2 linked regions of the Homo sapiens genome follow. The protein of the gene in region 2 purifies or fractionates together with the protein of the main gene of each other region. This does not show direct contact. Each region holds a gene or a part of one and is shown on either strand. Other genes may lie near its edges.

Region 1 (3,820 bases), on a different chromosome or scaffold from region 2:
AGTTCAAGACCAGTCTGGCCAACATGGCAAAACCCCCTCATTAAAAATACAAAAATTAGCCAGGCATGGTGGCACGCACCTGTAGTCCCAGGTACACAGGAGGCTGTGGCAGGAGAATTGCTTGAACCCGGGAGGCAGAGGCTGCAGTGAACTAGGATCCTGCCACCACACTCCAGTCTGGGTGACAGAGCAAGACTACGTCTCAAAAAAAAAAAAACAAAAACAAACAAAAAACCTTCTAATATGGCCTCTTAACTTTATATAATTGAGTCAAACGTTATAGATTCTTTGCCCTATTCCTTCTTTCAACTAACATCATTTTTATAACATTCATCCTGCAAGTAACTGTTTTCATCTAGTTTTAAAATGTAACCAGAGATTGTTGCCTGGACCATCGGGTTATAGGCATTTCTCCATGGTGGGGAAAAAATTTCGGTAAGCTATTTAGAAGCTGGGCTTTTATTATTTTTTTAGGGACAGAGTCTGGTTCAATCACCCAGGCTGGAGTGCAGTAGCGCAATCATAGCTCACCACAGACTTGAACTCCTGGCTTCAAGTGATGCTCTGACCTCAGCTTCCCAAAGTCCTGTGATTACAGGCATGAGCCACCACACCTGACCTAAGTAGTATTATTCATAGATTTATAGAATTTTTTCTATTTTTTTTTTTTTTGAGACAGGCTCTCGCTCTGTAGCCCAGGCTGAAGTGCAACAGCGCCATCATGGCTCACTGCAGCCTTGGCCTCCAAGGCTTGAGCAATCCTCCCACTTCAGCCTCTCGAGTAGCTGGGACTACAGGCGTGCACCACCATGCCCAGCTAATTATATTTTTTTTTAATTTTTTTTTTGTAGAGACGAATTATATTTTTTATTTTTTCTCACTATGTTGTCAGGCTGGTCTTGAACACTTGGTCTCAAGCCAAGTGTCCTCTTGCCTTGGCCTCCCAAAGTGTAGGGATTACAGGTGTCAGCCACCACACTCAGCCTAATTTCATTTTTAAAGTAAAATTTACTGCTTTTTTTTTAAATACTGAGGGAGCACGCACATAATCTCATTGCTCAAATCATATCTCTAAGCCAGGGGTCGGCAAACTAAGCCATGGGCCAAATCTAGCCCACCACCTGTTTTTGGATGGCCTCCAAACTAACAGTGGGTTTTACATTTTTAAATGATTTTTTTAAATCAAAAGAAAATACTTTGTGACACATGAAAACTGTACAGTATAAATTCAAATTTCAAGATCCATAAATAAAGTTTTATTGGAACACAACAGTGCACACTTTGTGTGTCATCCACAGTGGCTTCCACACAACCATGTCAGAGCTGAGTGGCTACAACAGAGGAGCTCTGGCCTGTAAGACTATGGGCCTGCTCTGAACGTTGCAGTAGAACTAAAGCTAGAGAGAACCCACCGCCTGGCCAGCTGAACAGGGAATTTAGAAAGCAATACCAGAGTTCCATAGCTGCCGAAGTACTCTTCATCCTGCCACGTGTCCTCGGGGTCGTACTCATCCACGTGCTTCCCCACATGGTTTGCCGGAATGTACCCACAGCAGCCCGCACGCTCACCCCACCACCAATCTGCAGTGGTTTGTCTCAGGATAAGAATTTTTTCTCCTCTCAAAAAACTGAGCTGGAAAAAAAAAAGTTAAAATTCAATAAGAAAACCAGTCATTGGTATTTCAAATGTGGCTCAGTGATAAATCCCATCAATGGTGACAAAATCACAGAGATTTCAAACAGGAGTCAGTGGGTAATGACAGCAACTGAGAATGTTTGCAAGTGACACCATGACTTAGCGATGCCTCTGGAACATCTACCTGAAAGGAGGGCACAGCTTAACAGATATTTTTTAAAAGAAGGAGTAAACATTTTCAAATGGCTTAGGAGAGAATTTCTCAACAGCCTCTTCATTGTAACTCAACTATGCCAACTGAGTTACTGGAGGCTGACTCTAAGAAATTCCTGTCACAAAGTAAACAAAGCTATGTCCAAGCAGATATAGCTTGATATATTTGGTAGCCTTACTTTTCATTAACTGGGTGGGTTCTACATTCCAAGTAGAAACCAGAACAGGTGCTTCTGCCCCTGGCTGAGGGTCCCCACTCCATGCCTCGTATCTTTACATCATGCTTGAGGCAGAACTGGCTGGGCTGTGAGCTTCACACACAGGTCTTGTGTGGCCCTACGCATCTGAATACCTCTTCATTTAACTTTGGTGTGACGTCTGCAAAATTTATCTCCTTTTGACACTGAACATGCTGAAAGCCATAAAGCATTAACCACCACGTGTGGCTACCTGGGTCTCATCGGTGGCAGCGTAGTCCGCGATGGCCACAAACTCCTCTGGCTGTACTCCCTCCTGCAGGAGACCGGCCTCACTGCACTCAGCAGGCTCTTCTCCCTGCTCAAAGCCAAGGAAAGCGTGAGGAGAGGACGCTGGAGCTTTTTTTTTTTTTTTTTGGCTATATTATTAGGATGGTTTCAAATTTCAAATACAGATTCATGTGTCCAAGTATTTATTATACAAACTATTTGGATCATCTTTACTACTATAATCAAAGGCTGTCACCTTCACTCTACATTTCTTTTCTAAAAAAAAAAATTATCTGGACCCTAAAAGAGAACATCAAAGCAAGAAGTCAGAAACAGGCACCACTAGTGTCTATTTGGTGAGGAGCCCTTGTCCTTCATCAGCTTTGCTTCCTGAAGGTGATCATCAACCCCATGAAGAGAAACCAGTGTGAGGACAGAGCCAGGGGCCCAGCGCCCCAGGCAGGCACAGCCAGGGGCCTGTGGAAAGAGCTGATGGCATGGCACAAACCTCCACGAGGCAGCAGAGCCCAGCTTGGACCCACACAGGTCCTTGGAGCCTCCCCCAACCCCTCCATTTTTTTTTTTTTTTTTTTTTTGAGACAGAGTCTTGCTCTGTTGCCCAGGCTGGAGGGCAATGGCATGATCTCGGCTCAGGGCAACCTCTGCCGCCTCCCAGGTTCAAGTGATTCTGATGCCTCAGCCTCCCAAGTAGCTGGGACAACAGGTGTGCACCACTACACCCAGCTAATTTTTTGTATTTTTAGTAGAGATGGGGTTTCACCATGTTGCCCAGGTTGGCCTCGAAATCCTCAGCTCAGGCAATCCACCTGCCTCATCCTCCCAAAGTGCTAGGACTACAGGCATGAGCCACCATGCCTGGCCGTTCACTTTATATAAGAATAAGCTTGCCTGGAAGACATCACTGCAGGGGGCAGAACCTCAGATCACACACTCCAGTTCAATGAATCAACCTTGTCTCAATACATACATTTTAAACACATTTTCCTAAACATAAAAGTAATTCGTGTTTACTTTAGAAAATGTGTGAAAACACCAAGTACACAGAAGAAAATTAAAACCTCCTGTAATTTTGCTCACTGATCACAGATAATAACAGACAGCACATTGGTGTTTATACTTTCAGACTTTTAAAAAAGTGGACACGTAACATAAGTACAAAGCATTCACTGGGTTCACACAATAAGCCTGTGGCCTATGGTTTTCACTTTATAAACTCTGAACATTTTTCTTATTAAATATACTTCTAACACTATTTAATATCCAGTCTATGAATTATCAGGACTTACCTATCCAGTTTCCTAGTCTTGTACATTTAGACTTTTCAGTTTTTACTATTCTAAATCATGTTAAGATGAACTTCTTTCAACATAAATCATTCTGTATGTACCTTAATCTTCTTAGGGTAAGTCTCTGAATGTGAACCTGATGGACTGAGACTATGTGGCTTTTGGTTTTACCACCCAGTGCTCTCCAGAAAGGTGTT
Region 2 (3,820 bases):
CCATGTCTATAATTTTTTTTAAAGACTGTAAGAATACATATTATTGGTTGTTCCTTGCTTGAATTTCCCCACTTTTGATTCTCCAAAGTGAATGTGTTCTTCTTTCACTCATATTGTCATCCCTTAGAGTTAGCATATTTTTTTTCTTTTTCTTTCTTTTTTTTTTTTTGAGACGGAGTCTCGCTCTGTCACCCAGGCTAGGGTTCAAGCGATTCTCCTGCCTCAGCCTCCTGAGTAGCTGGAACTACAGGCACGTGCCACCACACCTGGCTAATTTTGTATTTTTAGTAGAGACGGGGTTTCACCATGTTGGCCAGGCTGGTCTTGAACTGCCGACCTCAGGTGATCTGCCCACCTTGACCTCCCAAAGTGCTGGGATTACAGACTTTTCTTTCTTTCTTTCTTTTTTTTTTTTTTTTTTGAGAAAGATCTTACTCTTGTCTCCCAGGCTGGAGTGCAGTAGTCCAATCACAACTCACTGCAGCCTTGACCTCCTGGGCTTAAGCAATCTTCCCAGTATCTGGGAGTACAGGCATGCACCACCACACCTGGCTAAGTTTTTGATTTTTTTGTAGAGATGAAGTCCCACTATGTTGCCCAGGCTGGTCTCCTGGACTCAGTGATCCTCCCGCCCTAGCTGCCTAAAGTGTTGGGATTACAGGAATAAGCCACCACGCCCATCCTAGAGTCAGCATCTTAAAGTAGCCACAGGGTAGTATGCTGTTAATTAGACGACAGAGAAGTACTGATATTTATTAAACAGCTATCTTTTGAAATGTCATGTTTTCCTTCTCTGTCAGTGTTATGAAGTAGTTCTCATCTATTTCATGGACATTTCCGTTAAATCAGTTTTTGATTTATGACAGATTATATCATGAATGTTAAGAAGCAGAAAACATTTCTATACTGGATAGCATGTAAAAGAAGCCAAGTTATGAAGTTGGATCAGATTTTCAGTTCCTGTCTGCTTAACTGGGAACTAACTTTGACTTTCAAAGAAGATATTAGGAAAGATCAGTAATTAGTAGTCATTAGATTACATAATTTACATCATCCCAGGAAAGGAGCTGAGTTGGACAGGGGCACCATCATGTGACCTCAGGTTACATTGCAGATCATACTGGTCATACTCATCCATTCAGTAGACATCCGTGGATACATACCACAAACAAGACAGAGTAGTGCATACGTAAATAATGTACCCTGCTACCTTCACTGATGCAGCTTCCAAGGAGGTGAGCAGTCCTCCCACTGGGAAGGTATGAACAATACCAGGCAGTATACCGAGAGAATACCGGAGAGAGAGAGGTTGCTTCCAACAAGGATGTTTGGGAAGTCCTTAAAGAATTGCCTGAACTTCATAAAAAGGACAGTATGTTGGTTGGTCAAGAAGAATGGAAGGACATTTTAGGGGAAGAATAAATCACCATCAAAGGCACAGAGATGAAGGGTTTTCTGAGACAGATTTTTATGTTATTTTTTTGAGAGAGGATCTTGCTTTGTTGCCTAGGATGGAGTGCAGTGGCACAGTCGTGGCTCACTGCAGCCTCAAACTCCTGTGCTCAAGTGATCCTCCCACCTCAGACTCCCAAGTAGCTGGGACCACAAGCGTGTGCCACCATGCCCAGCTACTTCTAAAAATATTTTCTAGAGATGGGGCCTCGCTCTGTTGCTCAAGCTAGTCTTGAACTCCTGGGCTCAAGTGATCCTCTGGCATCGGCCTCCCAAAGTGTTGAGATTATAGGCGTGAGCCACTGTGCCCAGCCACAAATTGTTATTTTATGTATTATTTTTGAGACAGGGTCTTGCTGTGTCTCATAGGCTGGAATGTGGTGGCCCGATCATAGCTCACTGCAGCCTTAACCTTCCTGGCTCAAGCAGTCCTCCCACCTCAGCTGCCCAAGGAGCTGGGGATGTAGGCACACACCACCATACCTGGCCAATGTTTTTTTGTAGGGACAGGGGTCTCACTATGTTGCCCAGGCTGGTCTCGAACTGCTGAGCTCAAGTGATCCCCCTGCCTTGGCCTCCTGAAGTGCTGGGATTACAGGTGTGAACCACCACGCCTGGCCCACAAATTCTTATTCTTAATATTAAGATTGTTAGTGTGCTAATGTTCTATCCATTTTTCTGTGCTTGGATCAACTTGAAGCACTGGGTATTTATTACAGACCTATCCTCTGCTTGACAACTTCTGCTGGAATATATGTACTTGTCACATATTAGGATGGTTTGGGGTCAGTATAACAGTTGTTGCACTGAGTTAAATATAGCAAGAGATTTGGGGATCTAGAGCCTTCTTCAAAAGTATAAAATAATGGTTTACTAAGGTGACATCTTGTGTTCCTTCATGGCTAGAGGTACATGGGGCACTCACCCCTTGAAGGCAGGGATCTCTCTGTTTTCATATTTTTATTACTTATATCTGTAGAGTGACTAATACATGGTAGCATGCGTAAAAATTTGCTGAATCGTGGTTATCTTAACTTTTGATTTGTGAATCAGTGTGAGGGTTCATTTTAGAGAGAAAAAAATACTGTTAATGTATCACTTTCTTTTTCTTTTTTTTTTTTTTGGTTTAGGCGTTTCTCTTTCAGGATTCCGGGTAGAGGTTGTAGATGGAGTGAAGCTAAATTTGCTAGATGATGTTAGTAGTTGGAAACCTGGAGACCAGATTGTGGTCGCAAGCACAGACTATTCCATGTACCAAGCAGAGGAGTTCACTCTTCTTCCCTGTTCTGAATGCAGCCATTTTCAGGTCAAAGTCAAAGGTATTAAACTGCTTAGAGTACTTCTTGGGAAACACACTATTTTCTTGGGATTTGATTCCTGAAATCCTTTTTCCTCTCAGTCACTACCATCACTACCACCACCACCATCACAATCATCAGTATTGAAAGTCATAGCAGTGGAGTGCATCAAACACTAGATTCCAGGGAATATTAGATAAAAATAGCTATTGAGCAATATTCTTGCTGCTAATGATACATATTGCTTCAGTTTCTTTGTATAAAAAAAAGATGTCAACTAGAGAAATTGATTTTCCAAGGTCTTTTCTATTATTTTAAGTTCTGGGTTACATGTGCAGGATGTGTAGGTTCATTACATAGGTAAACGTGTGCCATGGTGGTTTGCTGCACCTACCAACCCTTCACCTAAGTATTAATCCAAGCATGCATTAGCTATTTTTCCTGATGCTTTCCCTCCCGCTGCCTCCCCTCCATTTTCTTTTGTATTAATTTTCTACTATCAGATAATAGTAAACCCAATGATGAATTAGATCCATTTATTAATAGAAGTATTTCTTAATTAAAAGAAATCCTATGGTTTTCGAGTGCCTATTTGATTACCAAAAACAAAAACAAAAACAAAAACTCATTGATATTTAAAATGGAATCAGATAGGTATTTTCTTAAGACTACATTTCCTTGCTGGGAGCAGTGGCTCCCGCCTATAATCCCAGCACTTTGGGAGGCTGAGGCAGGTGGATCTCTTGTGGTTAGGCATTTGAGACCGGCCCGGCCCATACGGTGAAACCCCATCTCTACTAAATATACAAAAAACATTAGCCAGGCATGGTGGCACAAGGCTTGTAATCCCAGCTGCTAGGGAGGCTGAGGCAGGAGAATCGCTTGAACCCAGGAGGCGAAGGTCGCAGTGAGCTGAGATCATGTCACTGCACTGCAGCCTGGGCGACAGAGCGAGACTGCGTCTCAAAAAAAAAAAAAGACTACACAAAGAAATTCTTACTGTAAGTTGCATATTGAAAGAATGCCTGACACTTACCGGGCACTCATTTTGAGCCTGGTACTAGGCACAG

The links.
Region 1: the proteins of CEMIP2 (region 2) and PRMT2 purify together in Homo sapiens (co-immunoprecipitation; one large-scale study listed by IntAct). This does not show direct contact.

Annotation. Positions count from the first base shown.
Region 1 is NC_000021.9:46,642,119-46,645,938, reverse strand, and holds part of PRMT2 (protein arginine N-methyltransferase 2), read right to left. Parts: intron 2,405-3,820; coding exon 2,300-2,404; intron 1,634-2,299; coding exon 1,451-1,633; intron 1-1,450. UniProt on the Homo sapiens protein: Arginine methyltransferase that methylates the guanidino nitrogens of arginyl residues in proteins such as STAT3, FBL, histone H4. Acts as a coactivator (with NCOA2) of the androgen receptor (AR)-mediated transactivation.
Region 2 is NC_000009.12:71,733,757-71,737,576, reverse strand, and holds part of CEMIP2 (cell surface hyaluronidase CEMIP2), read left to right. Parts: intron 1-2,582; coding exon 2,583-2,771; intron 2,772-3,820. UniProt on the Homo sapiens protein: Cell surface hyaluronidase that mediates the initial cleavage of extracellular high-molecular-weight hyaluronan into intermediate-size hyaluronan of approximately 10-5 kDa fragments.